7 separate regions of the Homo sapiens genome follow, and regions 1, 2, 3, 4, 6 and 7 are each linked to region 5. Evidence: fine-mapped QTL for protein levels in blood plasma. A gene starts in region 5. Each other region holds a variant in brackets. All regions are shown on one strand. Distances are between the middles of the regions. Region 1 overlaps NFATC3 (nuclear factor of activated T cells 3). Region 2 overlaps GFOD2 (Gfo/Idh/MocA-like oxidoreductase domain containing 2). Region 3 overlaps CDH3 (cadherin 3). Region 4 overlaps CES2 (carboxylesterase 2). Region 5 holds the start of LCAT (lecithin-cholesterol acyltransferase). Region 6 overlaps KCTD19 (potassium channel tetramerization domain containing 19). Region 7 overlaps ATP6V0D1 (ATPase H+ transporting V0 subunit d1).

The links. PIP is the chance, under the fine-mapping model, that this variant and not a neighbour inherited with it causes the effect. Protein levels are from antibody-based Olink assays in UK Biobank. Linkage for the fine-mapping came from a reference panel and not from the study's own genotypes, which makes the PIPs less certain.
Region 1: its variant is fine-mapped to the plasma level of the LCAT protein (UK Biobank, PIP above 0.99).
Region 2: its variant is fine-mapped to the plasma level of the LCAT protein (UK Biobank, PIP 0.99).
Region 3: its variant is fine-mapped to the plasma level of the LCAT protein (UK Biobank, PIP 0.92).
Region 4: its variant is fine-mapped to the plasma level of the LCAT protein (UK Biobank, PIP above 0.99).
Region 6: its variant is fine-mapped to the plasma level of the LCAT protein (UK Biobank, PIP above 0.99).
Region 7: its variant is fine-mapped to the plasma level of the LCAT protein (UK Biobank, PIP above 0.99).

The regions. Positions count from the first base shown.
Region 1 is chr16:68,143,068-68,147,067 of GRCh38, reverse strand. All of the region lies in intron 3 of NFATC3 (nuclear factor of activated T cells 3), which reads right to left. Among named protein-coding and RNA genes, the nearest start is that of NFATC3, 60 kb to the right of the region's middle. The variant C/T (reference allele first, on the strand shown) is at 2,493.
Region 2 is chr16:67,683,093-67,687,205 of GRCh38, reverse strand. It overlaps GFOD2 (Gfo/Idh/MocA-like oxidoreductase domain containing 2), which reads left to right. Exons shown (of 3, transcript NM_030819.4): 2 at 1,404-1,749. The coding sequence starts at 1,491. Among named protein-coding and RNA genes, the nearest start is that of C16orf86, 18 kb to the right of the region's middle. RefSeq lists enhancers at 1,385-1,444, 2,491-3,690. The variant T/C (reference allele first, on the strand shown) is at 2,525.
Region 3 is chr16:68,684,175-68,688,287 of GRCh38, reverse strand. It overlaps CDH3 (cadherin 3), which reads right to left. Exons shown (of 16, transcript NM_001793.6): 10 at 3,464-3,705; 11 at 2,938-3,083; 12 at 552-776. It also overlaps the pseudogene HSPE1P5. Among named protein-coding and RNA genes, the nearest start is that of CDH3-AS1, 40 kb to the right of the region's middle. The variant G/A (reference allele first, on the strand shown) is at 2,092.
Region 4 is chr16:66,936,018-66,940,017 of GRCh38, reverse strand. It overlaps CES2 (carboxylesterase 2), which reads right to left. Exons shown (of 12, transcript NM_001365405.1): 2 at 1,777-1,981; 3 at 660-801. Among named protein-coding and RNA genes, the nearest start is that of CES2, 2.5 kb to the right of the region's middle. The variant G/A (reference allele first, on the strand shown) is at 2,141.
Region 5 is chr16:67,943,410-67,947,517 of GRCh38, reverse strand. It overlaps LCAT (lecithin-cholesterol acyltransferase), which reads left to right and starts at 3,398. Exons shown (of 6, transcript NM_000229.2): 1 at 3,398-3,570. The coding sequence starts at 3,417. SLC12A4 (solute carrier family 12 member 4) reads left to right here. Exons shown (of 24, transcript NM_005072.5): 16 at 83-187; 17 at 413-581; 18 at 885-1,080; 19 at 1,178-1,347; 20 at 1,436-1,567; 21 at 1,647-1,754; 22 at 1,965-2,149; 23 at 2,298-2,431; 24 at 2,587-4,044. The coding sequence ends at 2,678.
Region 6 is chr16:67,291,731-67,295,843 of GRCh38, reverse strand. It overlaps KCTD19 (potassium channel tetramerization domain containing 19), which reads left to right. Exons shown (of 16, transcript NM_001100915.3): 9 at 439-581; 10 at 788-871; 11 at 1,150-1,264; 12 at 1,673-2,300; 13 at 4,007-4,113. Among named protein-coding and RNA genes, the nearest start is that of PLEKHG4, 14 kb to the right of the region's middle. The variant C/T (reference allele first, on the strand shown) is at 2,497.
Region 7 is chr16:67,470,598-67,474,597 of GRCh38, reverse strand. All of the region lies in intron 1 of ATP6V0D1 (ATPase H+ transporting V0 subunit d1), which reads left to right. Among named protein-coding and RNA genes, the nearest start is that of ATP6V0D1, 8.6 kb to the left of the region's middle. The variant A/G (reference allele first, on the strand shown) is at 2,254.

The sequences.
Region 1 (4,000 bases), 200 kb before region 5:
AACACATATTTTGACCAACATCTGTTCCAGATGTATAATACCATAAGAAAAATAGGGCTATGCCTTTCTATCTGAGAGACTTTTAAAGGAAGATCAAATAAACTAATTAGACTATTATCCCATCTGATTTCCAGAGAAGCATTTATGTTGTAGGCAATAAATAAATTACTACTACTGTTAACACTAGTCTCTAAAAACTTTCACCAGTATCAGTAATCTCTTCAGTCCACCCTCTGCTTCGCAGAAGAAAGTAAGCCAAGTTGTTTGTTATGTTTCTGTATCGTTTCCATAGCAAAGGTCTGTGCCTGCTTAATTTAACTAAAGCTGGAGGGTTAAAGCCTGAAGGTCACTACAGGACAGACTACAGCAACTTCAATAAGAGCAGTTCCATTATCAGTTCTGCTGATTAGTTGGGGGAATGGGCTCTAAATATATTAGACCCATGACAACACATTGTAGAAATACTAAAAATACAAAATTAAATTTCTATAATATAAATTGCTTAAAATGAAAGTATGCATAAAAATGAAAAAATAATACAAACTTCATTTTTCAAATTTCAGTAACTTTTGGGATAAGATTCAAAATATGTATACCTTAATAAAACTTACCACTGTATAATATATAAGCTTTTTAAAAAAAATCCTTTTTTTTTTTCTTTTGGGAGACAAGGTCTTGCTATGTTGCCCAGGCTGGCCTTAAACTCCTGGGCTCAAGCAGTGATCCTCTTGCCTCAGTCTCCCAAGTAACTGGGATTACAGAATCACATCACTACACCTGGCTAAAACTTTTATTCTTCTTAAATAATTAGACTCATAGGAAGTTGCAAAAATAGTATGTATATGTACTACAGGTTGAATATCCCTAATCTGAAAATCCAGAATGCTCCAAAATCTGAAACTTTCTGAGCACTGATATGACACCCAAAGTAAATGCTCACTGGAACATTTTGGAATTCAAATTTTTGAATCAGGGATGCTCAACCAGTATGTATTCTGGAAATATTCCAAAATTTGAAAAAATCCAAAATCTAAGACACTTCTGACTTCTGATCCCAAGCAGACAAGGGATACTATAGCCCCATGTACCCTGCACCTAGTTTCCCCCAACTATAATACAGTACATATACCCACAATATTGAACTGTAGTTAGCACAGTATCAAAACCAGGACATTGACACTGATACAATACTGCTAACTAGACTACAGGTCTTATTCAGTTGTCATTGTTCTACATGCATTCATTTGTATGTGTGTATATAGTTTTATGCAATTTTATCCCATATATAGATTCAAATAACTACTACCCCAGTCAAGATATGAAGAAATTCTCTTGGGCCACCCCTTCATATTTGCACCCCTCAACCTGACCCTGTTTCCTGGCACCAATCTATTGTCCATCTCTACAGTTCTGTCATTTTGAAAATATTACATAAATAGAATCATATAGTATATTGACTTTTTTCCACTCAGCATAAGTCTATGGAGAACTGTCCAAGTTGTTGCATGTATCAACAGTTTATTCTTTTATATTGCTGAGTGGTAGTACATTGTATGGATACACCAGAGTTTATTCGTGTATTTGGTTTGTTTATAACCTTGGGCTATTAAAAATAAAGTGCAGCAGGGCGTGGAGGCTCATGCCTGTAATCCTAGCACTTTGGAAGGCTGAAGTGGATGAATCGCTTGAGCTCAGGAGTTCAAAACCAGCCTGCCTGGACAAGATGGTGAAACCCCATCTCTACAAAAAACATAAAAATAGCTGGGCATGGTGGCGCACACCTGTAGTCCCATATACTAGGAAGACTGAGATTGGAGGACGGCTTGGGCCTGTGAGTCTGAGGTTGCAGTGAGCTGAGATCGCATCACTGCACTCCAGCCTGGGTGATGTGCAATCTGCAGAGCCAGACCCTATCACAAAAAAAAAAAAAAAAAGAGAGAGAGAAAGAAAAGTTGGTTGTTAGGCCAGGCATAGTGGGTCAAGCTTGTGATCCCACGGCAGGGAGGCCAAGGTGGGAGGATCACTTGAGGCTAGGAGTTGTAGACCAGCCTGGGCAACATAGTGAGATTGCCATCTCTACGAAAAAAATTTTTAAAAATCAGGTTGAGGCAGCCATGTGCGGTGGCTCATACCTGTAATCCCAGCACTTTGGGAGGCTGAGGCCAGTGGATCACCTGAGGTCAAGAGTTCCGGACCAGCCTGGCCAACATGTTGAAACTCTGTTTCTACTAAAAATGTAAAAATCAGCTGGGCGTGGTGGCAGGCACCTGTAATCCCAGCTACTCGTAAGACTGAGGCAGGAGAATCTCTTGAACCTGGGAGGCGGAGGTGGCAGTGAGCTGAGATGGAGTCTCTGCACTCCAGGCTAGGTGACAGAGCAAGACTCCATCTAAAAAATAAAAAAAATAAAAAAATGAAGTTGAGGCTAGGCGCAGTGGCTCACGCCTGTAATCTCAGCACTTTAGGAGGGCAAGGTGGATGGATCGCTTGAG[C/T]TCAGGAGTTCAAGACCAGTCTGGATAACATGGTGAACCACTGTGTCTACAAAAAAAAATAATGATGATGATAATGATAATACATAGTTGTTACGAATATTATTAGTATACCTATTGTGTAAACATAAGTTTTTTTTTTTCTGTTATAAATGCCCCAGAGTGAGATTGGTGGGGCATAAGGGAAGCTTAGTTTTTTAAGAACCTAACAAACTATATTCCAGAGTGGCTGTATCATTTTAACTCTCACTAGCAGTTTATGAAGCATCCAGTTTCTGTGCATCCTTGACAACAGTTAGTATTATATTTTTTATTTTAGCTGTTCTAATAGGTATGTAATGATAACTCAATGTGGTTTTAATTTGCATTTCCCTAATGGCTGGTGATGTCTGTTCATGTCTTTGGCATCTTTTCTAACTGAACTGTTTTTATTGTTGAGTTTTGAGAGTTCTTTATACATTCTATGATCTTTGACAGATATATGCTTTGCACATGTTTTCTCCCTGTCTGTAGCTTGTCTTTTCATCCTTTTAATAGCATCTTTCACGGAGCTAAAGTTTTTAATTTTGATGAAATCCAATTTATCAATTTTTTTCTTTTAGGTATGGTGCTTTTGGTATTATGTTCTAGAGATCTTTGCTTAGCCTGAGATCTTAAAGATTTTCTCCTGTTTTCTTCTAAAAGTTTTATACTTTTATGCTTTATTTTTTAGGTTATTTTATTTTTTGAGATGGAGTCTCGCTCTGTTGCCCAGGATGGAGTGCAGTGGTGTGATAGCAGCTTACTGCAGCCTCCACCTCCTGGGTTCAAGCAATTCTCCTGCCTCAGCCTCCAGACTTAGCTGGGTCTAGAGGTGAGCACCACCATGCCCAGCTAATTTTTGTTATTTTTTAGTAGAGATGGGGCTTCATTATATTGGCCAGGTTGGCCTTTAACTCCTGACCTCAGGTCATCTGCCCGCCTCAGTCTCCCAGAATGCTGGGGTCACAGGTGTGAGCCACCGCTCCTGACCTGTGTTTTATAATTAAATCCACAACCCATTTTGAATTAATTTTTGAGAAAGATGTGAGGTTTGGGTTAAGGTTTATTCTTTTGCCTTATGGGTGTCCAATTGCTCCAGCACTATTTACTAAAAAGACAATATAAAACCTCTTAAAGAATACTCATCTTTGTCTATAAACAGTATGTTACATAGAGTTACTATTACCTATTTTAAATTAAAAATTGACAATTCCAGCTGATTTTCACATTTTGAAAAAAGTAACGTATCTCAAGTAATTCCTACAATGCTAATATTTTTAGATAAATAAAACCCAATTTTATAACTATATAGCCTTTCTTTCTTTCCTTTTTTTTTTTTTTTTTTTTTAGCATGGTCTTGCTGTTTCCCAGGCTACAGTGCATAACTCACTGCAGCCTCAACCTCCTGGGCTCAAGCAATCCTCCCAAGTAGCTGAGACTCAAGGTGGGTACCACCATGCCTGGTTAAATTTTTTATTTTTATTTTTTGG
Region 2 (4,113 bases), 260 kb after region 5:
CTCTTGAACTGGTTTTTGTTTTCCATTCTTCTTTTTCTTTTCTTTTTTTTTTTTTTTTGTGACGGAGTCTCATTCTGTCACACACGCTGGAGTGCAGTGGCACAATCTCAGATCACTGCAACTTTCACCTCCCAGGTTCAAGTGATTCTCCTGCCTCAGCCCCTCGAGTAGCTGAGAATACAGGCTTGCACCACCACACCTGGCTAACTTTTTATATTTTTGGTAGAGACGGGGTTTCACCACGTTGGCCAGGCTGGTCTCGAACTCCTGACCTCAAGCGATCCACCCACGTCAGCCTCCCAAAGTGCTGAGATTACAGGCATGAGCCACCACGCCCGGCCTCCAGTCTTTCTTTCTTTCTTTCTTTTTTGGATAGAGTCTCACTCTTGTCGCCCAGGCTGGAGTGCAGTGGTGTGATCTTGGCTCACTGCAATCTCTGCCTCCTGGGTTCAAATGATTCTCCTTCCTCAGCTTCCTGAAGAGCTGGGATTACAGGCATCTGCCACCACACCTGGCTAGTTTTTTTTTTTGTATTTTTAGCAGAGATGGGGTTTGGCCATGTTGACCCGGCTGGTTTTGAACTCCTTACCTCAGGTGATCCGCCCGCCTTGGCCTCCCAAAGTGCTGGGATTACAGGTGTGAGCCACTGTGCCTGGCCTCCACTCTTCTTTTCTTTGTCATATATAGAATCATGAACTTTTATAGCAAGAAGGAACCTTAAAGATCAATCACTCCCCTTATTATACATTTAAGGCCCTGAAAGTTGAATCTTTTGACCAGGGTTACACAGAAAGTTAAGTAGCAGAACAGAGATTTAAACTCAACTTTATTCATTTTCCGTTTTTCCTCTTATCCTTCAGTCTCCATGGAAGAAGAAGATTCTGCAGTGTTTCATCTTGGAACAGTATTTCTTTTTTCTTTTGAGACAAGGTCTTGCACTGTTGCCCAGGCTGGAGTGCAGTAGCACAATCATAGCTTACTATAGTTGTGAACTCCTAGGTTCATGTGATCCTTTCACCTCAGCCTCCCAGGTAGCTAGGACTACAACAAGCGCATGCCACCACATCTGGCTATTTTTTAATATATATATTTTTTAATAGAGATGACATCTCGCCGTGTTGCCCAGGCTACTCTCAAACTCCTGGCCTCAAGTGATCTTCCCACCTCGGCCTCCTGAAATGCTGGGGTTACAGGCATGCATGAGCCACCATGCCTGGCCTCGAGCCCTATTTCATTTGTGCTTTTCTGGCAGAGAACTTGTTACTTCCTTATTTGAAAGTAGCCTTCGCACCACTGCACTCCAGCTTGGGCAACAGAGCGAGACTCCATCTCAAAAAAAAAAGAAAGTAGCCTCAGCTGAGTGTCCTCTCCAGTAATAACCAGTGTAATGTTTGCTATTCTAGGAGCCATGTCTGACCAGGACGTTTGGAAGATCATATCCATGCCAGAGGCTCTTGTGAGGAGATGAGTTGGTAAAGAGAGAGGCTGGGATGAAGATGCTGCCAGGAGTGGGCGTGTTTGGGACTGGCAGCTCCGCCCGAGTTCTGGTCCCACTGCTGAGGGCAGAAGGGTTCACTGTTGAGGCCCTGTGGGGGAAGACTGAGGAGGAGGCGAAGCAGCTTGCTGAGGAGATGAACATCGCCTTCTACACCAGCCGGACTGATGACATCTTGCTGCATCAAGATGTGGATCTGGTGTGCATCAGCATCCCCCCTCCACTCACCCGGCAGATATCCGTGAAGGCTCTAGGTACGCCCGGCAGGCCACAGCAGGGGCAGATCATGTCTCTCCCTCTGGGCAGTCCTCTGAGGGTCACTCCTCTCCTCTGAGCTCTCCTTCCTGGGCTCGCATCTGCAGGGAGGAGAACTCTGGGACATCACTTGTCCCTGAAGCAGTGCTTGGGGAGGGCATGAAAAAAGACATAGCCTAACCTACCTCCCATCTGTAAATCCCTGAACAGAAATTAAGGAAATACTCTAAGAGACAGCCATCAAGGGGCTGGAGATGGTTGCATCTCAGTCAACATAAAGTTTGCCTCTGTGAAGTTAGAGGTCAGAGCCCTGGGTGGCGGGGAATTGGTTGTGACTAGTGTGTTTGTTCTCCCATTTCTGGGGCACACAGCACCACAGGAAGGAGAGGCTGTGTAGCAAGGCTACCATTTCCCATGTTTTGTCAGCGTTTGACTATAGTGAGCACACACCCTTCCTGCCAAACTGCAGTCTTGTATTGCCGGAGGACAGGAAGGCTCTGCCAGCATTGGGCTTCCCTGACAGGATCCGTCGACAGCCTGCTTACATGACATCTCCACTCCCTTGGGAAGTTTTGGGCTTGGTAACCTCTTGCCCCTGACTGGGCATGGCCTGCTGAGCTGTTCTCCTACAGTTCCCGTTGGTCTTCTATTTCCAGTCAACTGGAGTCAACTTCTTCTCTTTATCTAATATAAATCAGAACCTAGTTTACTAAGTAAACAAACCAGTAAACATTCAGCCAGCAATTTTTATTTTATTTTGAGACAGAGTTTCCC[T/C]CTTGTTGCCCAGGCTGGAGTTCAATGGCGCAATCCCGGCTCACTGCAACCTTCGCCTCCCAGGTTCAAGTGATTCTCCTGCCTCAGCCTCCCAAGTAGCTGGGATTACAGGTGCCTGCCACCACACCCAGCTAATTTTTGTATTTTTAGTAGAGACAGGGTTTCACCACATTGGCCAGGCTGGTCTCGAACTCCTGACCTCAGGTGATCCATCCGCCTCGGCCTCCCAAAGTGCTGGGATTACAGGTGTGAGCCACCATGCCCAGCATTTTTTTAAAATTATTATTATTATTTTATTTTATTTTTTTAGATGGAGTCTCACTCTGTTGCCCAGGCTGGAGTGTGCATTGGTGCAATCTCAGCTCACTGCAACCTCCACCTCCCAGGTTCAAGCGATACTCCTGCCTCGGCTTTGCAAGTAGCCAGGACTACAGGCATGTGCCACCACGCCCAGCTAATTTTTGTCTTTTTAGTACAGATGGGGTTTTGTTATGTTGGCCAGGCTGGTCTCGGGCTCCTGACCTCAGGTGATCCACCTGCCTTGGCCGCCTCCCAAAGTGCTGGGATTACAGGCAGGAGCCACCACACCCAGCCTCAATTATTTTTTTAATGCCTCCTGTGTGCCAGTCACTGTCCTGATGTCATTTTGGACATTCAAAGCTGTGTTAGATTGGACCCCTCCCTGTCTTCAGATTTTATAGTCCAATTGAGGCAACTAGAAATAACACACATTACAAGGTAGATGACAGAAGACATAGTCACAATTCAACTAGCACATACTTACTTGACTGAGTAACTGTTTTATGTGAGGTAATAGGAGCCAAGTGTCTCCTTGATGCAGCCGAAGATCTCTAGGTCGAGGAACCGGTGCCATGAGGTTGTCCTCCACTCTTCCTGACCACTGCCATGGTGGCAAACCTCAGGGTCTGCTACTTATCTCCTCCCTCATTCTGAGGAATGTCATAGGAAGGTGTCTGTCACCTCTGGCTCAGTGGGTAGGGAAGGATAAATGTTCTTTGAAGTGAGAAAGAACTTCAGTCTGTCCGGTTGTCAATTTGGAGCAAGTAAGTTTTGGCCTTATTGTTTGTTTCTTCCAGAGAGCTCTCTCTGAGGATGTGTGACATTGGAGTTATTCATTCATTGGTCACCAAATGCTTGGGAGGTCAGATGGTGGCTCCCAGATTGAATTCAGAAATAGACCTAAGTCAACACTTTAGCAGCAAGTTGGTTCAAGGGGAAGCAAGCCGCTATTGGTCACTTGACTCCTTGCCATCCCTTGTGGCTTGAATGCAGGCTGGAAAGGTGAGGTGTGTCCGGAGCCAGAACTCTGGAGGCTCTCAGTCTTCTTCCTGAATTTTAGGGTTCCCCACAGAGACCATTTCCAAGCTATACGGGAAGAAAGAGGAAACCCCAGGGTTCTTTGGCAACAAGCTTGCTTTTTTTCTGGTTCTTGGTATGCTCCACCAGCAGCAGCATCACCTGGGAGCTTGTTAGAAACTGAATTCTCAGCTGGGCAACATAGTGGGATCCCGTCTCTACAAAAAAGTTTAAAAATTAGCCAGGCATGGTGGCACGCGACTGTGGTCCCA
Region 3 (4,113 bases), 740 kb before region 5:
ATAACGCAGCCGGGTGTGGTGGGCATCTTGTGGGCCACGGGGGCAACGGTCTCCTCTAGAACCTCAATCAGATGCTATTTATTAACCTGGTGGAGGTCTTTGGAATTCCACAGGACCCCTAAAAGACCATTCTAGCCCAACCGCCTTCCTGTGTAGATGGAAAAACTGAGGCCTCGAGAGGGAGGGAGTGACTTGGCCCATGTCACATAGCGAGAGTCAGGACCCAGCACAGTGATCGTAGCCAACACTCACTGAGCATGCTCTGTGCCAGGTCCACTTCACATGCTCTACATAGGTTCGATTCCTCGAGGCCTCAGTTTTTCCATCTACACAGGAAGGCGGTTGGGCTAGAATGGTCTTTTAGGGGTCCTGTGGAATTTCAAAGACCTCCACCAGGTTAATAAATAGCATCTGATTGAGGTTCTAGAGGAGATCATTGTCCCCATGGCCCACAAGATGCTAGGATAGGAACGTGTGCAGAATCCTGGTGTGGGGCAGATGCCCACCAGTGGGGCTGGCACCCCACCCGCTACCACCACTCACTCAGGTACCTTCCTCGTTGACCTCTGCCGTCCAGTAGATGTCTGAGTCATCTGTGAGCTGGGCCTGGAAAGGGGAGGTGTGGGGAGACAGGTCCTTGTCCGTGATGTTCAGCACCTGGCGCACAGGGCTTTGGTTGCAGATGGTGATCTGACGGGGCTCAGGGACTGGGCCATGGTCATTGACATCAATCAGTGTTAGCAGAAGGGTTCCCGTGCCAGTGGTGGGAGGGCTTCCTGTTTGTAATGACACATATGATGAGCTCCCTGTGACCCACCCAGTCAGCCTCAGGGGGGCTCCTCCTGTTTACCGCCCAGCTCTCACCTCTCAAGACCTTCCATGCCCTTGCTTCCAATACATGGCACATACATGCCAGTTGAGCCATCATTCTCATTTCTGTCCACAGCAGACATTACTAACTATCATGACACAGTTGCAGCCACTTCATCCAGACAGCCACTATAACCACAAGGCGAAACCTACCGGCTACTTCAGGGTTACTCCAGTGTTTGTCGATCAGCTTCAGGGAAGCTTCCCTTCACAGCCCTGCTGCAACCTCTCACCTGCCTGCAGGTCCTGGTTCATTACATGTCAACCAGAGGTGACAACTACGTCATAACCTCCCATCTGTTATGGTGTGGCATCACTAATCTGTCATGGCACTTTCCAGTCAGCCCCTATCAATCAATCACAAGGGAAAACTGACAGGCCAATTCAGGACCCAGTGAACCAAAAACTAAGGCTGAAGGGACTTTCCTAATGCTGATGTTTTATTTACTTATTTGAGAGTCTTACTCTGTTGCCCAGGCTGGAGTGCAGTGGCACAATTTCGGCTCACTGCAACCACCACCTCCTGGGTTAAGGTGATTCTCGTGCCTCAGCCTCCTGAGTAGCTGGGACTACAGGCGTGTGCCACCACACCCAGCTTATTTTTTTTGGTCATTAGTTATCATTAGTTTATTATAAGAGAGAAATATGGAAATTATTTACATGATGAAAGGTTTCAGAACTTCAGTGGAATGGGCAGCTTCACGTTGATGCCATTCCAATAGTGACTTATTTCAGTCTACGTACTTTCCAAGAATGTCACCATCCCTAAATAGGAGATAATCCTTGTCATCTAGAACTACTTTGGTGCCTCCATATTCTGGAAGAAGAACTTTATCTCCAACTTTCACGCTAACTGGTTGAATCCCTCCACCCTTTCCTTTAGAATCCGATCCAACAGCAACTACTGTTGCTGCAATACTTTTCCTTGAGATTTTTCTGGACCCATAATGCCTCCTTTGGTTACAGTTTCAGCGGCGCTCCTTTCAACCAATACTCGGTCAAAGAGTGGAAGAAACTTTCTAAATGCTTGTCCTGCCATGACTCCCTCCACCTCAGACTCGTACTCTGCTCTTGTGTAGCGCCGCAAGGAGAGACATGCGGTCTGACCCTGGCGACACGTGAAAAGACCGCCTGGGTGCAGGTGCACTCACCCCAGCCCTTGCCGCTCGCCCCGAGGCGTGCTGCAATTCGCCCCAAGGGCCCTGTGCAGGCCACTGATGC[G/A]GGAACTGGGAGGCGGCACACTCAGCTAATTTTTTATGTTTTTAGTAGAGACAGTGTTTTGCCATGTTGGCCAGGCTGGTCTAGAACTCCTGACCTCAGGTGATCCACCTGCCTCAGCCTCCCACAGTGCTGGGATTATAGGCTTGAGTCACCATGCCCGGCCCTAACTCTTATTTTTTAATTTTTCATTTTTTGTAGAGACAGGGTCTCTGTATGTTTCTCAGGCCAGCCTTGAACTCCTGGGCTCAAGTGATCCTCCTGCCTAGGCCTCTCAAAGTGCTAGCATTACAGGCCTGAGTCACCACACCTGGCTCCCTCCCAACTCTTGGGTTTTAGGGAAATTGGAATCATGGCCAGTCCCTAGGATCAGTCTTTTGTTGTTGTTGCTTTTTGAGATAGTCTCGCTCTGTCACCCAGGGTGGAGTGCAGTGGCACGATCTTGGCTCACTGTAGCCTCCACCTCCCAGGTTCAAGTGATTCTTCTGCCTCTGCGTCCGGAGTAGCTGGGACTACAGGTGCACACCACCACACCCGGCTAATTTTTTGTATATTTAGTAGAGACGGGGTTTCACCATGTTGGCCAGGCTGGTCTCGAACCCCCGACCTCAGGTGATCTACCTGCCTTGGCCTCCCAAAGTGCTGGGATTACAGGCATGAGCCACTGCATCCGGCCTAGGACCAGTCTTTAAAAGACTCCTCTGAAAGACCCCTTTGACCGTCTGGATTGGTTTGCAAATAGCCCTCCTCGACACATGTTCCCACCTGTGGAGGAAACATGCTGTGCTGTGTCATGTGACCTGAGAACCAAAAGTGGCCCTTGTGGGAGGGCTGGGAGGATGCTCTCACCATTGTCCATGGCCAAGACCATGACTTCATAGATGTTGTTCCTCACAAACTGCTCATCCTCACGGTCGAGGGTGCCCACAGCTGTGACCTGCCCACTGTCTGGGTCCATGGCTAGCCACCCTGCTGGGTCTCTCAGGATGCGGTAGCTGGAGAGGAAAAGTTGAGACGAGTACATCCAGAATATTTAGAATTCTGATGTCATCATTCAGGGCCTCCTCATACCAACTGGCAGATGGCCTCTGGGCTCCTAAGCAGGATCATATGGAAAATGCACCTCGCCCATAAACGGGGACCTAAAGCAGCAGGTGCAGGAGTCCCAGGAGGGATACATGACAGAGTGAGAAATACCTGCCCCCAAACCCCTATTCAGTCTTCAGCCTCAAAGAGGGTAGGAAGAAGAGAACCTATGCAGGAGGGATATTCCTATTTAACAATCTCTATGGTAATCAGAACAAACGTTGGCCATGATCACCCACCCACCAACTGTACCAGTACGTGCTGCTTACTGAGCCCAGCTCCTGAGTACCTGATCTTTTGATTCTCCTTGTCAGGGTCTTCTGCAGTGTAGACACACACAGGCTCCCCAGTGGGGATGCCCTCCTGGACCTCAACGACTTTGGAGGGTGGGACAAACACAGGTGCCTCATTCACATCCTCCACGTGGACCACTATGGTGGCTGTGGAGGTTGGGAGCTTCAGCACAAAAGGGGCCTCGTTGGTCACTTCAACGTACAGGGTGTGCTGGTTTTTGGCCTCAAAATCCAAACCCTAGGAGAGAAGAGGAAGAAGGACCTGGACCACCATTTTGAGAGGAGGTCCTGTGCAGGACAGTTGAGATGTGAGAAGGAAAACACCAATACTGAGGGGCTTGAGGCCCTCACTAGCAACAGTGCTGCCCTTTCTCTGTAACATAAACACTCCCGTGTTTCCTGAGTGCACATCTAATGGGGCCTCTCAGACCATCCTAAAAGTAACTGTATTAATAAGCCCTAGATCAATGGTTCCCAGTGGAGTGGTGGTGATGTTTGAGAAAACTGGGGGGCCTGGCATTGTGGCTCATGCCTGTAATCCCAGCACTTTGGAAGGCCAAGGCTGCTGGATTGCTTGAGACCATTATTTGAGACAGGATCTTGCTCTGTCACCCAGGCTCAAGTGCAGTGGCTTCATTATGGCTCA
Region 4 (4,000 bases), 1.0 Mb after region 5:
CAAAGCCTGGGTTCATTAACCCCAGATAATTCACCAAAGTGGAAAGAAAAGGGGTGTCTCCCTGATGGCTCCACATGAACATTAACCAAAAATGTCCTTAGCCTGAACCACATAGTGAGACCCCGTTTCAACAGAAAATGTTTTAAAAATGAGCCAGGCATGGTGGAATAGGCCAGTAGTCCCAGCTACTCGGGAGGCTAATCTGAGAGGATCATCCCGGATTTCGAGGTTACAGAGAGGTATGTTCATGCCACTGCATTTTAGCCTGGGCAACAGAGCATGATGCCATCTCTAAGAAAAAAAGTTTTTGTGTGTGCCCATTCTATAGGCCCAACAGATTATCCATGGCTGGGGTTCTTGGTCACCTCAAGGTGCAGCCCTTTGGCACTTAAGTGGATCTCCTGGCATGAGTTGGCTGAGTGAGTCCTGGGTCCAGCCCAGAGCCACAGCCTTTGACCTCTGGGAGCAGCCAGAACTCTGTGACCCCATGTCCAGGGGCCAGCTGCCCAGTCTGGGTAAGGAGCATTTCTTGGACCTGACAGTGAGAAGCTTCTCAGCATGGTCCACTCTGAAGCAGGGCCTGAGCTAATATTGTCCTTTTCAGCTTCTTGCAGAAGAACTGTCCTCCAACCCCCAGTGAACTGTGGCCTGACACCCACCGGCAGGTTAGAGCCTTCATGGCTATGGGCCGGCGTGTAGATGCTGAGGTACAGGCAGTCCTCAGACATGGAGTCGGAAGGGAAGGTCATGTTGAACTGGCTAAGAAACTCTGACTCCACTGCGGTGAGGTCCTGTAGACACCTGGTAACCAGGGCAAATAATCAGTCCAGGGGCCAGGCTGTGGCCAAAACCAGACCCTGGGTTCAGAGGTGCTCCCAGCCACCCTCAGACCCTTCCCACAATATCCTGCTCACACATGATCCCTCTCAAAAATCCCTTCCCACCAAGTTACAGGCCACAGGCTCTGGGGAAGCTGGGATGCAGCTTGGACTTCCAGGGAGGCCTCGAGGTTACTGAGGACCTTGGGTATCATTCCTCGCACTGCCGGAAACCTTGACTCTTAGGGGTTTCTATGAGAACCATTGGCTGCATGTGTTGACATTCACCACTATATTCCTGTAACCCGTAAGGCCTGGGACAGGGGAGTAGCCCACATATGTGTGCTACATGAGTGAATGGATGTTAATTTCTCATGAGAAGGGCAGTGGGATGTCTCTCATCCCAAGTCTAAACTCTCAAAAACTCATCATTCCTACATGGCCTCCAGTTGGAAACATATACATATACATATACATGTCTCTTGGCCAATGGCTCCTGGTCCTGTCAGTGGACACAGTGCCTGTGGAGAGTGCAGGTCCCCAGAAAGCTACCACTACTGTTCTCTTCAGGTATTTGCAACATCTGCCACTAGAGTTAGGGGCTCCTACAAGGTTCATAGAGCCAACCCGAACCTTTCCCAGAGACACCTGCCACTGGTGGCAGAGAAAGCTTGGCATAACCAGAATCTGGGGAGATACGTGTGTCTGCCCCTCCCTTCGGCACCTGGAGCCAATGTCTTCTGAATGCCAAGCCCTGATCCAGGAGTCTGAGAAGTTATTCTGCCCTCCTGAGCCTCAGCATGCTCATTGGAAAAATGCACGTGGGAATCCACGAAACTCAGAAGGAAAACTGGCTGTGGGGGTTTAGATGAAATGATAACTGCAGCCTAGCTGAGCTCAGAGCACCCCCACCCCTGCCCCAGGGCCTGGAGTTCCCTGGACCCCTTGGAGAGCTTACATGGCCGGATGGGTGGTTCCATCCCTCACACCACTCCAAGATTCAGGGGGCTCAGGGGGTGCAAATCGCAGCGGACCTAGAGGTGGCTTGGCAAATGGAATTCCCAGGAAGGTTTGGACCCCGGCATTGGCGCCCTTCACATGGACAAGACTCCCCAGCACCTGCCCCGTGTGTGTGGTCCGGATGGGACTGGCTGAGTCCTGGCCTGTGGGCAGAGAGACAGACATCACGGTTGGGTTTGACCAATCGACTGCCCTCCCAACTGTTGGTATTGCTGCTTCCTTGCCATCCTCATCTTAGCTCAAGGGACTCTGATCTGTAAACATGGGCTTTACAAACTTCCTGCCTGTAACACTCCCTTCCC[G/A]CTCTGGCTTCCTGGGCCTGTCTCCATCCCACCAGGCTGAGGCTCCTTGGGGCCAGGCATCATCATTCAGCCCTAGGACCTTCAAACAAAGGGTCACATGCCCTTGATGGGACTAGAGTGTCCTTCAACTGTGTGCCAGGTCATGTGACAGTAGGATGATGGTGGGAATTGGGCAGGCAAGTTTCTTGTCCTCAGGGATGTCATGTCCAAAGTGGCAAGAAATCATGTAAAGAAAGCATCATCCAAACCATGAGTGATGTTGGTGAAAAGAGGTGCAAGAGAAAAGTATGGCTGTGGCTGGGATATAAAAAGCACAGTGACTGGCCTGGGGACCATAGTGGGACTCTGTCTCTGCAAAAAAATCAGGAAATAAATTGGCGGGGTGTGGTGGTGCATGCCTGTAGTCCCAGCTGTAGAAAAGCCTGGCTCCAGAAAGTGGGTGAGTTTATGACTGTTTAGATGAAAATCAAGGACAAGTGCACACATCTATTCTTGTGTAAACTGCTGGGCACTGTGTGTACTGCGGTGTCAACAAGCAGTTTCCAGTGTGGGCCATGGGGACTTTGATGGCCCCTGAGGAGAAGCCAGGACTGGTTGGGTAAAAAGAGGATGGCACACATCACCTGTACCCTCCTATGGCTTGTCAATTATTTTTTCTGAATGTGGGTCCAACCCAAAATTTTGTATACATATATATTTGTCAGACAAGGTCGCCATCTGTTGCCCAGGCTGGAATGCAGTAATATGATAACAGCTCACTGCAGCCTCCACCTCCTGGGCTTGAGATCCTCCCGCCACAGCCTCCTGAGTAGCTTGGAGTACAGCTGTCTGCCACCATGCTTGACTTTTTTTTTTTTTTTTTTTGGTAGAGACAAGTCTTGTTGCCCAAGCTGGTCTCTAACTCCTAGCCTCAAGTGATCCTCCCATCTCTGCCTCTCAAAGTGCTGGGATAACAGGTGTGAGCCACTGTGCCTGGCCCAAAATATTTTAAAAGGTAGCCATCTGTGAGGCCAGGCAGATCTTCCTGCTGGGCTCCTGGTGAACTCTAGAATGTGGTCAAGGGCAGGCACGGGAGGAAGCCCTGCAGCAGTGCACCATGGGGCGGGGGGAGTATGGACTCCACCTGCGCAAATTAAATTGGGGAAGGGTTGGAAGAGACAGATCATACACTTAGGAGAGTTTCGGGTGAGAGGACCAAAGGCCGAAACACTCCCCCAGCTTCTGATAAGGGCCTGGAGAAGCCTGGCAGGCACACAGAGCCTTCACCTTTGCCCTGGAAGCCAAGTTGTGCCCTTGCCCAGGATGAGGTAAATGGCATGAGGGACACCACGAGCTCTTTGGTTCTTGTTTCTGGAGACAGATTTTTGCTTTTTCACCCAGGCTGGAGTGCAGTAGTGGGATGAAGGCTCACTGCAGCCTCAACCTCCCCTACTAAAGTGATCTCCCACCTCAGCCTCCCAAGTAGCTGGGACTACAGGTCACAGACCACCACAGCCCACTAATTTCTTTCAATTTTTTGTACACTCCGAGTCTCACTATGTTGTCCAGGCTGGCCTCCAACTCCTGGGCACAAGCGATACTCTCCCTTGGCCTTCTAAAGTGGTGGGATTAAAGGAGTGAGCCAATCGCACCCAGCCACTGTGGCCTCTTAGATCTGCTTTAGGATTTGGCGCCTGGGGGCTTCTGTTCCCCAAGGACCACTATCCTTGTCTGAGGCCCCTTTGGAGGGCTCAGGGCATCCCCCCTGGCCAAGGACGCCACACACTGAGAGCCAGATGCTGCCAGAAGCTATTACTGTTATTACCGGCCGGCAGCACCCGCTACAGCCACAATCATAAGAGGGAAATGGACTGAATCCCC
Region 5 (4,108 bases):
CAGAACCCCTCCACCTCGCATCCACATAGACAGAACCCCCTGGGCGGCACCAGGGGCTCACCAGCTGTGGTGGAATCTGCAGGGCTGAGAAGGAGTGGGGTGACGGGATCCGAGGCCTGTCCCTGAGCGCTGCCCGCTACGCGCTGTTGCGGCTGGAGGAGGGGCCTCCTCACACCAAGAACTGGCGGTGAGTTCCCGCCAGACCCTGGCCAGGGCGCAGAGGTTCTTAGGGGTCGCTGTCGGGGTCAGAGGGTCGAGAGGTGCCGGCTCCCCATCCTGGGGCTGCCCGGGGCACCCTCCTGGGCCATGCTACCCAAACCTGCAGGGACCACGACCCGAGAAGGGAAGAAGAGGAGGGGCTCCCTAGAACGGCCGGCCCTGGTCTCAGGCTCCCCCCACCCGGCCACTGCAGGCCGCAGCTGCTGGTGCTGCTGAAGCTGGACGAGGACCTCCACGTGAAGTACCCGCGGCTCCTCACCTTCGCCTCCCAGCTCAAGGCTGGCAAGGGCCTGACCATTGTTGGTTCTGTCATCCAGGGGAGCTTCTTGGAGAGCTATGGCGAGGCTCAGGCCGCCGAGCAGGTACTTGCTTTGGGGAGGGAGAGCTGAGCCAGACTACAGGGGTCTGGACTGCAGCTGGCACGGAGGGGAGGGCCCAGTCTTGGCCAGGGTGGCCAGCCAGGCAGCCAGCACTGCTGCCACCTGAGAGCTGGCACAAGGGGGAGCCAGCAGTCCCATCTTGAAAACTTGGCCTCTGGGTAGGCAGCTTGTTGCCCCCAGGCCCTCCTCCACCCAAAAGTCGTTTTGTTCCCGAGGGGCCTTGGGAGGGAGCCCAGAGGCAGGAAGCTGATGGCCTCCCATTGGCCCTGGGTGTGTTCCCCACAGACCATCAAGAACATGATGGAAATTGAGAAGGTGAAGGGCTTCTGCCAGGTGGTGGTGGCCAGCAAGGTGCGGGAGGGGCTGGCCCACCTCATCCAGTCCTGTGGCCTGGGAGGCATGCGGCATAACTCCGTGGTGCTGGGCTGGCCCTACGGCTGGCGACAGAGCGAGGACCCCCGTGCCTGGAAGACCTTCATTGGTGTGTGAAGGCCTGGGGCCTGGTGGGCAGGGGTGAAGTGAGGTGGCAGTGGGCGGAGGGCCACAGACTGGTGGTCAGCCGTGCTCCTCCTCCCCAGACACCGTGCGCTGCACTACGGCTGCCCACCTGGCCCTGCTCGTGCCCAAGAACATCGCCTTCTACCCCAGCAACCACGAGCGCTACCTGGAGGGCCACATAGACGTGTGGTGGATCGTGCACGATGGTGGCATGCTCATGCTTCTGCCCTTCCTGCTGCGCCAGCATAAGGTAGACCAGGGGGTGGGTGCAGATGAGAGGGGCTAGGCCCTTGGAGGAGCAGCTGTGACCAAACCGCCCACCTGGTCCCTTGCCTCAGGTCTGGAGGAAGTGCCGGATGCGCATCTTCACAGTGGCCCAGATGGATGACAACAGCATCCAGATGAAGAAGGACCTGGCTGTCTTTCTGTACCATCTGCGCCTTGAGGCCGAGGTGGAGGTGGTGGAGATGGTGAGCCCTCTGCCCTGCCCTGGCCCCGTGGATACCATGTCCCGTGCAGCTGGGTCCTCACGGCCAACCCTGTCCCCAGCATAACAGTGACATCTCTGCATACACCTACGAGCGGACGCTGATGATGGAGCAGCGGTCGCAGATGCTGCGGCAGATGAGACTGACCAAGACTGAGCGGGAGCGAGAAGTCAGTGCCCTTTGTGGTTCACGCCAGGGCGGGTGGCAGGGTCAGGCCTTTGGAGACCGCATCGGTGGGTGCGGAGGAATCAGAATGACTCACCGCAGCCCTACCCAAGCTAGTGCTCATTTCCCGGAGGCAAGGTGGTCACATTGGGCCAGACAGGCCCCATCCCCCTTTTCCTATGGGACCAAGGCTATCTCCTGCAATTGTCCTCAGGCCCAGCTGGTCAAGGATCGGCACTCGGCCCTGCGGCTGGAGAGCCTGTACTCGGACGAGGAAGATGAGTCTGCAGTGGGGGCTGACAAGATCCAGATGACGTGGACCAGGGACAAGTACATGACTGAGACCTGGGACCCCAGCCATGCCCCTGACAATTTCCGGGAGCTGGTGCACATTAAGCCGTGAGTGCAGCAAAAACAGCCCCAGCGGCACTGGAATCTAGGGGTGGAGGTGGGGTGGGGCAGACAAGTAGTGTTAGATGGGCCAGGGGTGGGGACCCTCCTTGCAGGATGGCTCATGGCGACCTGTGACTGGCTACACTACGTGTAGGGACCAATCCAATGTGCGGCGCATGCACACTGCTGTGAAGCTCAATGAAGTCATTGTCACGCGCTCCCACGACGCCCGCCTGGTTCTCCTAAACATGCCTGGCCCACCCAGGAACAGTGAGGGCGACGAGAACTGTATCCCTTTGTGGAGAGGCAGGCAGTTGGGAGGTGGATAGCATGGGAGGTCAAGCCAGCGGCTTCTCTCCTGGGCACCCCTGGGTGGGCATGGCCCAGGTGGCCCGGGTTGCCCGTTGATTCTGTTGTTGCCTCCTTGACTTGAGGCCCTGCAGACATGGAGTTCCTCGAGGTGCTGACCGAGGGCCTTGAGCGGGTGCTGTTGGTGCGCGGTGGTGGCCGTGAAGTCATCACCATCTACTCCTGAGCCCAGTGTCATCTTGTGGCCTGGAGTCGAGGTCTTGGCCAGGACATAACAAGCTGTGGTCTGGGGTAACAGCCTCTTCCCAGCACCCACCTGCCAGCCCTGCTTGCCTGGCCCTGTCCTGGACCCAGCTTTGCTAGGTCTCCTTGGAAACCAGGCCTGGGCCTCAAAATGGAGATGGATCCCAGGTCTTGTGGGACCCTGGGATGTTTGGGGACTTTACTATCTAGCACCCCAGTAGGCCTGTCCTGGCCAGAGAAGACTGGTAGGGGCCGAGTGGGGTTTGAAGGCAGCCGGCCCGGCCCAGCCCAGGAGCGCTATTTATTGCATATTTATTGTTTGGATGTCACCATCAGAGACGAAGGGAAGGGTAGCCAGGGAGGGAGTCCAGCCCAGCTGCCTGCAGGAAGATCTGGCTCAGTCTACTATGGGCAGGGCCCCCCACCAAGCTGAGCCGAATGGAGACAGCTGAGCTGAGGCCTGACTTTTTCAATAAAACATTGTGTAGTTCTGGGCCTCCTGCTGCCCCGGCTCTGTTTCCCCTGGCGCCAAGAGAAGAAGGCGGAACTGAACCCAGGCCCAGAGCCGGCTCCCTGAGGCTGTGCCCCTTTCCGGCAATCTCTGGCCACAACCCCCACTGGCCAGGCCGTCCCTCCCACTGGCCCTAGGGCCCCTCCCACTCCCACACCAGATAAGGACAGCCCAGTGCCGCTTTCTCTGGCAGTAGGCACCAGGGCTGGAATGGGGCCGCCCGGCTCCCCATGGCAGTGGGTGACGCTGCTGCTGGGGCTGCTGCTCCCTCCTGCCGCCCCCTTCTGGCTCCTCAATGTGCTCTTCCCCCCGCACACCACGCCCAAGGCTGAGCTCAGTAACCACACACGGCCCGTCATCCTCGGTAAGCCCCCACCAGGCCCCTGATGCACCACGCCAGACCCTGGGGAGCCTGGGCCCCAGCCCCTGGCAGCTGACCTGGCCAAAGCCCTTCTGCCCTGCATAAGCCCCGACATAAGTACCTGCCCTGGTGTGGGGAGGGGCCAAAAGCTTGTCCCTTAGAGGAATGACGTCCCTTCTCCCACCACACTGTGACTCTCAGTTGTCTAACCCAGGGGGGGCGGAGTGGGGGACGGGGTGTGCCTGAGGTCTTGGCTGGGGCATCACAAGCTGTGGTCAGTCACAGCCACACCAGACTCTGGGCCAAGCCCCACCACTCCTTCCTTGGCCCCCACCCACCAAGGACAAGATGCCCAGCCCAGGATCGGTGAGCAGGAGAGGCCCATCCATGCCCGGCCCCTATTAGGCCCAGCCCCCATGCCCCCAGACCTATCTGTTCCCACCTTGGACTTTGGCAATAAAGGAGCGCCAGACTGGGTGTTTGCTCTGCAGAGGCAGGGGTCAGCGGCCTTGGCCTCAGCACCTCAGCGCCTTCCCTTCCT
Region 6 (4,113 bases), 650 kb after region 5:
GAACCCAGGAGATAGAAGTTGCAGTGAGCTGAGATCGCGCCACTGCACTCCAACCTGGGTGACGGAGTGTGACTCTGCCTCAAAAAACAAAACAAAACAGAGCACAAGTGGACCGAGTGGCCTGCTGGGAAGGCCCTCCAGAGTTTGCATAGGGAGGGGGCCAGCTCTGAGGGACCTGGACTGAGAAGGAGGTACGGTGGGCTTCCAAATGCCTTGAGAGGGTGGTCTAGGGGCCATCAAAAGTTGAAGCAGGGATGATGTGCTTCTCCCTGGAAGCTCTGCTCCCCACCATGGTTCCTTGTGACTGACAAGACAGGGAAATGGAATCTCAAAGCCTCTGCTCTAGTGTAGTTGGAAAAGGGGAGTGAGAGAAGATTGACCTGCCCCTTCGCAAAGACCTAGCCTCTGAGACTGAGTCCGGTGTCCAACCCCCTCCAGTATCCAGAACTGCTGTCCAACCCTCAGAGAGTGTACTGGATCACATATGGACAAACCCTGCTCATCCACGGGGATGGCCAGATGTTCCGACACATTCTCAACTTCCTGAGACTTGGCAAACTGTTTTTACCATCTGAATTTAAGTAAGTGAAGCAAGGACGCAGTAAGATGAAATCACGAAGGCTGACCCCTCCCTTAGCAACAAAGGAGACCTGAGTTGCAGCCTTCAGGGAGGAGGTTATTTTATTTCCATCGTGGGAACTGTTGGCAGCGGCAGTTCCAGGAGCTCATGCTCCCTCCCACACCCTCATCCTAGCTGCCCAGCTGGATATCTCCTTGTTGTTTGCAGGGAATGGCCCCTCTTCTGCCAGGAGGTGGAGGAATACCACATTCCATCCCTCTCAGAAGCCCTTGCACAATGTGAAGCATACAAGTAAGAAAACTTTATCACGACTCTATGTTTAGAATTTGGTCCTTTAAATTCCTCTTGAAATCCTGTCCTAAGTCCTACTCCTAGAGGATCCTGATCTCCTTGGGGTTGAGGGAGTGAAGCAGGCCCAGGATTGGCCAGTGACCTAGGCAAAACCCTTTAAGAGCCCCTTCTTCCCTGCTGTCTAGCATTAACTCCCAGCCAAAGAGCAGATCTGACCAACTGGCCAATGGCCTGATGGAAGTCTCTACTCACTAACCAACCCCTCTTGGTTTCTGCAGGTCATGGACTCAGGAGAAAGAATCTGAAAATGAAGAAGCTTTTTCCATCAGGAGGCTGCATGTGGTGACAGAAGGGCCAGGGTCACTGGTGGAGTTCAGTAGAGACACTAAAGAAGTAAGCACCAGCCTCCTCTGGTTGGTGTTATCCTCAAAAACCACTACCACCGGGCTCAGGGTGGATGGGGGTAGGTTCAGCTACTGGTGGGTGCAGCAAAATGAAAGAGCAGAGCCTACATGGGTTCCTAGGACAGGACCTGGCTTCTGAACCGTGAAGGAGGCACAGGAACTTACTGGCCACTTGTGGCCTGCGATGCTGATTGTATCTCCTGTTGGAATGACAGGCCACTGGGCTGGCACCATCCCCACTCAGCCTGAGCAAAGCTCAAATGGGTGACCCCTGTCAGGGATGGGATTGTTCAGGGAGAGCAAGTGAAGTCTTGGAGGCCCAGCTTATTAGATCTTGGGCAAGGCGTTGATGTCCATGCCCAACCTATCCAGAGTTACTGTGCCCTTCCCTCCCCAGACCACAGCCTACATGCCTGTGGACTTCGAAGACTGCAGTGACAGGACTCCATGGAACAAGGCTAAGGGAAACCTGGTCAGGTCCAACCAGATGGATGAGGCTGAGCAGTACACTCGGCCCATCCAGGTGTCCCTATGCCGAAATGCCAAGAGGGCTGGCAACCCTAGCACATACTCACACTGCCGTGGCTTGTGTACCAATCCTGGACACTGGGGGAGCCACCCTGAGAGCCCCCCAAAGAAGAAATGCACCACAATCAACCTCACACAGAAATCTGAAACCAAAGACCCTCCCGCCACTCCCATGCAAAAACTCATCTCCCTGGTGAGAGAATGGGACATGGTCAATTGCAAACAGTGGGAATTCCAGCCACTGACAGCCACACGGAGCAGCCCCTTGGAGGAGGCCACCCTGCAGCTCCCCTTGGGAAGCGAGGCTGCTTCCCAGCCCAGCACCTCAGCTGCCTGGAAAGCCCATTCCACAGCCTCAGAGAAGGATCCAGGACCACAGGCAGGGGCTGGAGCTGGAGCGAAAGACAAGGGGCCAGAGCCAACCTTCAAGCCATACTTACCCCCAAAAAGAGCTGGCACCCTGAAGGACTGGAGCAAGCAGAGGACCAAGGAGAGAGGTGAGTCCTGTCCCCCTTTGATCTAAGTCTTATTCACAACAGAGAAGGCAAACTCTTTGGCCAAGATGGCAGAGCAAGTTAGTGACAAAGGAGGACTAGACCCCCCCGCTCACCAATGCCATCTCTGTGCCAGGCAGCAGACACAGAAATGACTGGCACATTGGCATGGCTGGAGGGGCCAGGAGAACACACACGG[C/T]GAAGGGATGAGTGCTGTGGGAAGGAGGTGCCTATGAAGCAGGAGCACAAAAGAGGCTGAGGGCTGGGGAGTCAGCAGGGGAAGGAAGGAGAAGTCCAGGATGTTTGGAAGCGCAGGGCATGGGTCTAGCTGGAGGCCAGGCTTCACATGCAGACGTGATAAAAGATGAGGCTGAAGACAGAAGTCATAAGGACAGGCCTCGTGGGCCAGCTTCAGGACGTGGTACTCCATTCTGACCAGGATGGGAGTGAGCAGCGTCTGAAGGATTTTAGACAAGAGCACGGGGTCAGGTGTGCCCATCAGAAAGTTTGCTCCAGGAGCAGAGGAAATGCAGCAGGAGCTAGGTATTCGAAGCCACTTGGAGTTCTTTCTAGGCTAGGGGAAGCAGGCTAGGCAGGTAGTGGAGGGAAGGAGGGATGGGCCAAGGAGAAGCCAGGTTTCTAGCCTGTGGGACTGCAAGGGGGTGGATAGGCCCTTACTGAGGTGTGGGTAAGAGAAAGAGCAGAGCTTGGGGAAGGGCACATACTGAGTGTGAAATGCCGAGGGACATCCAGGTGGAGAAGCCCAGGAGACAGCAGGGGCTACAGGGACTGAACTGGAGAGAGAGCTTGTGTAGCCAGCTAAGGGAAGGTGGCCAGGGAACTGTGCTGAAAATCGCTGTGCCAGGATGCTGCCTCTGCTCCCTCAAAGCCCTGCCTGCAGTATTGTCACCTTCCCTATTAGTGGCTCCAGCCCTGCTTGGAGGGGCCTTCTTGGACTCTTGCCTGTGAGCCCTAAGTTGGTCTGTCAAGGTTGGGATGACAAATGTCCACTCTTTGGACATGCATCAAAGGCTGGCCCCAAAAGTTCTCAACTTAAAATTTTATAAAGATTTCCAGCCCTCAGCCCCATTTGATACGTCTTAGTTCAACAGAGGAATCTGGAGTTTCTTCGAGTTCCAAAATGTTCAGGATTTGGCTTGCAGTGATGCCAGGGCAATGAAGAGAGGAGTGGCCAGGACAGGCCCCTGCCAGCCCAGGGTGTCACTTCTGAGAAACTAGAGGTGGCAGCTGTTGCAAGGCTGGGGTGACTTGATTGTACTGGCCTGTCACCAGAGGTCCCCTTCCTGCTTGGGCTCTGAGGTGGCTTAAGGAGAGTCCCTGCTTATGAAGATTTGATGGTAATTGAAGAAAAGAATTTTAAAAGCCTGTGCGTGTGGCTCACGCCTGTAATCCCAGCACTTTGGGAGGCTGAGGCGGGTGGATCACCTAAGGTCAGGAGTTCGAGACCAGCCTGGTGAAACCCCATCTCTACCAAAAATACAAAAATTAGCCGGGCGTGGTGGCAGGTGCCTGTAATCCCAGCTACTCAGGAGGCTGAGGCAGGAGAATCGCTGGAACCTGGGAGGCAGAGGTTGCAGTGAGCCAAGATTGTGCCATTGCACTCCAGCCTGGGCAACAAAAGCAAAACTCTATCTTGAAAAAAAATTTTTTTTTAAAAGGAGAGCCCCCTCCCTATGTTGTTTTCACAGAAAGCCCTGCCCCTGAGCAGCCTCTGCCCGAGGCCAGTGAGGTGGACAGCCTAGGGGTTATCCTCAAAGTGACTCACCCCCCCGTGGTGGGCAGCGATGGCTTCTGC
Region 7 (4,000 bases), 470 kb after region 5:
AAAGGCCAAAGGCATTCCCTGAAATGTGGGTAGCTCCAAAGGAGAGCCTGAAAATAAATGAGGTAGTGAGTGCCAAATGTGGCCAAGAGATTGATAAAGTCAGCCTTCCATTTGGTTTTGCCATTCAGAGGTCATAGGAGACCTTAATGAGAACAGAAGAAGGTGAGGCTAGAAGGTGACCGCAGTGGATGGGCAGAGACAATGTCTAGACAGTTAGAGAAGACCTTACTGATGGACTGATCCCAGCGCAGCCACTTAACTGGTTTTGTGACCTTGGACAAGTCATTTATCCTCAGCTGTAAAATGGGAATAATATTAGGGTCTCTGAGATGTTTGTGAAGTGTAAGCACAGGGCCTGGGACCAAGTGAACAGTTGGAGAGGCCAGGTGCTCCACTGTGGTCATTCCCTGCTGTCACTCCTAGGAGACAGGTGCCATGGTGGGCCTTGAGTGGCTAATACAAGTATGTCACACAGGTCTTGCTTAGGGCAAGTGTGCCTGTCTAACAGGCAGACTGAGTGACCATCAAAACAGCATTGAGTGCACAGTAAGTGCAGGGTACTTTAGGGAGGGGATGTTATGTGGTGGGTGACGGTTAATGGGTATGGGCTTTATTTTTGGGGTGATAAAAACGTCCTAAAACTGGCCAGAAACGGTGGCTCATGCTTGTAGTCCCAGCACTTTAGAAGGCCGAGTCGGGGGGATCACAAGGTCAGTTCGATACCAGCCTGGCCAACATGGTGAGACCCCCATCTCTACTAAAAATACAAAAAATTGGCTGGGTGCAGTGGCTCATGCCTGTAATCCCAGCACTTTGGGAGGCCGAGGTGGGCAGATCACGAGGTCAGGAGATCAAGACCATCCTGGCTAATGCGGTGAAACCCCGTCTCTACTAAAAATACAAAAAATTAGCCAGGCATGGTGGTGGGCGCCTATAGTCCCAGCTACTTGGGAGGCTGAGGCAGGAGAATGGCATGAGCCTGGGAAGTGGAGCTTGCAGTGAGCCGAGATTGCACCACTGCACTCCAGCCTGGGCGACTGAGCGAGACTCTGTCTCAAACAAACAAACAAAACCACAAAAAATTAGTTGGGCGTAGTGGCGGGCACCTGTAACCTCAGCTACCTGGGAGGCTGAGGCAGGAAAATCGCTTGAACCCGGAAGGTGGAGGTTGCAATGAGCTGAGATTGCACCACTGCACTGCAGCCTGGGTGACAGAGTAAGACTCCATCTAAAAAAAAAAAAGTCCTAAAACTGATTGTGGGGCGGTTGCACAATTCTGTGAGTATGCTTAAAACCATGAATTGTACACTTTAAGTTGGCAAATTGTATGGCAAATGAATTATATCTCAGTAAAGCTGTTGCTGCGCCACCCCCCCCAGCCCCAAATTAGCCAGGCCAAGAGGTGGGAAGAGCATAGGGAGAAGGAATGGCATTAGTAGTCTCAGAAACACGAAACTGCCTCGTGCATGACAGCAGCCTTGGGAGGTGGAAGGAGAAAGTAGAGTGTGTGTCGAGGATTTGCAGCAGCGAGGTCTGGATAGATGCATTGGGCTGGTTCCTGGAAGGCTGTGGGTGTCTTAGAAGGACATATTGCTCAGGAAGGATGAAAGTTATGGTAAAAAATTGTTTTAAAAAGAGAGAGATTCTTAGATTAAGGTTAATGTGTAGGAAATGTCTTGTTTAGGATTTTCTGTGTATGCTCTTGCCTGGAAATATATATATATTTTTTTGAGACAGTCTTGCTCTGTTGCCCAGGCTGGAGTGCAGTGGCGCGATCTTGGCTCATTGCAAGCTCCGCCTCCTGGGTTCACGCCATTCTCCTGCCTCAGCCTCCCGAGTAGCTGGCACTACAGGCACCCGCCACCACGCCCGGCAAATTTTTTGTATTTTGTTTAGTAGAAACGGGGTTTCACCGTGTTAGCCAGGATGGTCTCGATCTCCTGACCTCGTGATCCTCCCGTCTTGGCATCCCAAAGTGCTGGGATTACAGGCATGAGCCACCGCGCCCAGCCGCCTGGAAATATTTTATACATTTCATTTTGTTTGTCAAAGGAAACTCTATTGAATTGGTGAAATTAGATGACCACAACTTGGACAGCAAGATGAGCTTAGCTCAGTCCTAAATTCCTCTGAGTCAAACGTGATCCAAAGGAAGAGATGACATGGTACTGGCAATCTAGTGACTACAAGCAAGAGAGAGGAGCTGGGGGCTGGGGGAGGGCATTGGGAGAAGGGTGTGCAGAAGGCAATAAT[A/G]GAAGGAACATTTACTCTGTGGAAGAAAGGGAATGAGCATGTTGAGTTGTGAGAGCCTGGACCCCACACAAGCCTGAAGTTTTTCCCTCTTGTTGGCCCCACTGCCCTGGGCAGTGGCATTGCTGCACAAGGGGACCCCAGTGCTCAGTGGCGGATGAACTGGCACAGGTTGTTGGTGGTGTCTGGCAGCCTGCTGCACCTGTTGCTCCCCTCCAGCTTGCTGCTGCTGCTGCCTGCGAGAATGAGGCCCCAGAGCAGGAATGGAGGCTAGGGCTAGGCAGGGGGGAGGTTTGGCATCTCGCTGTCATGAGCCAGTGTGGGAACCTAACCCCTCACTGGGTGAAGAAAAGGGGAATTGTGGAGGAGGTAGGGTTGGTGGTATGATACAATTAGAAACTCACTGGGCCTGGTGTGGTGGCTAACGCCTGTAATCTCAGCCACTGAGGAGGCTGAGGTGGGAGCATCACTTGAGCCCAGGAGTTTGAGGCCAGCCTGGGCAACATAGTGAGAACCACCCCCCGGCCCAATCTCTAAAAAAATAATAATATGGGAGGCTGAGGTGGGAAGGTCGCTTGGGCCTGGGAGGTTGAGGCTGTAGTGAGCCGTGATCACACCACTACACTCCAGCCTGGGCAACAGAGAGAGACCCCGTCTCAAAAAAAAAATTAATAATAATTTTTTTTAAAAAAGAAACTTGCTCTGAGGGAGGGGATGATTAATCTGTATAAAATTACAGCTAGATAGGAGAAGTTCTATTCTATACCATAGGGTGACTGTATTTAACAATAATTCATTATATATTTTCAAACTGCTGTAAGAGAGGATTTTGAATGTTCTCAACACAAAGAAATAATAGGCCACGTGTGGTGGCTCATGCCTGTAATCCCAGCCCTTTAGGAGGCTGAGGCAGGTAGATCGCTTGAGGTCAGGAGTTCAAGACCACCCTGGGCAACATGGTGAAACCCCCATATCTACTAAGAATACAAAAATTAGCCGGGCGTGGTGGCGCATGCCTGTAATCCCCAGCTACTTGGGAGGGTGAGGCAGGAGAATTGCTTGAACCCAGGAGGCAGAGGTTGCAGTGAGCCAGGGTCACCCCCACTGTACTCCAGTCTGGGCAACAGAACCAGACTCTGTCTCAAAAACAAAGAAATAATAAATGTTTGAGTTGATGGATATGCTAATTACCCTGAATTGATCATTCATTACACAGTGTATATATGTATCAAAATATCACATGTATCCTATAAATATGTGCAATTGTTACACGTCAATTATAAACAAAAAAGAAACTTGCTCTGAGGCTCTAGAGGATGGATTTGTGGGAGCAGGCCAGAAGCAGGACACTTGCTAGCTGCTCTTGCAGCTCTCTAGGTAGGAGAATATGGACTAACCAGGGCTGGAGTGGAATGAGGGGGGATGAAGGACCAGGTCAGAGATCAGCTTGGGAGATGAAACCCACAAGATTGGTCCAGTTTTTATTAGATGTGGGTGAAGAGGGTTAGAAGTCAGGCTGCTGGCTTAATAAATGACTGGGTGGATGCTGGAGCTCCTTTTGAGATACGGGCTACCAGAGAAGGGATAGGAAAGTTAGGGGTGCAGATTGGGGGGTGGGAGGGGAAGTATTCTATCTCAGATGTCTGAGGGAGTCCGGCAGGCAGTTGGCTGTGTGAGATAGTAACACTAAAGATATTAACCTGGAAGTCACCAGTACACTGGCTGGTGGCAGTTAGGCCCGCGCCAGGCC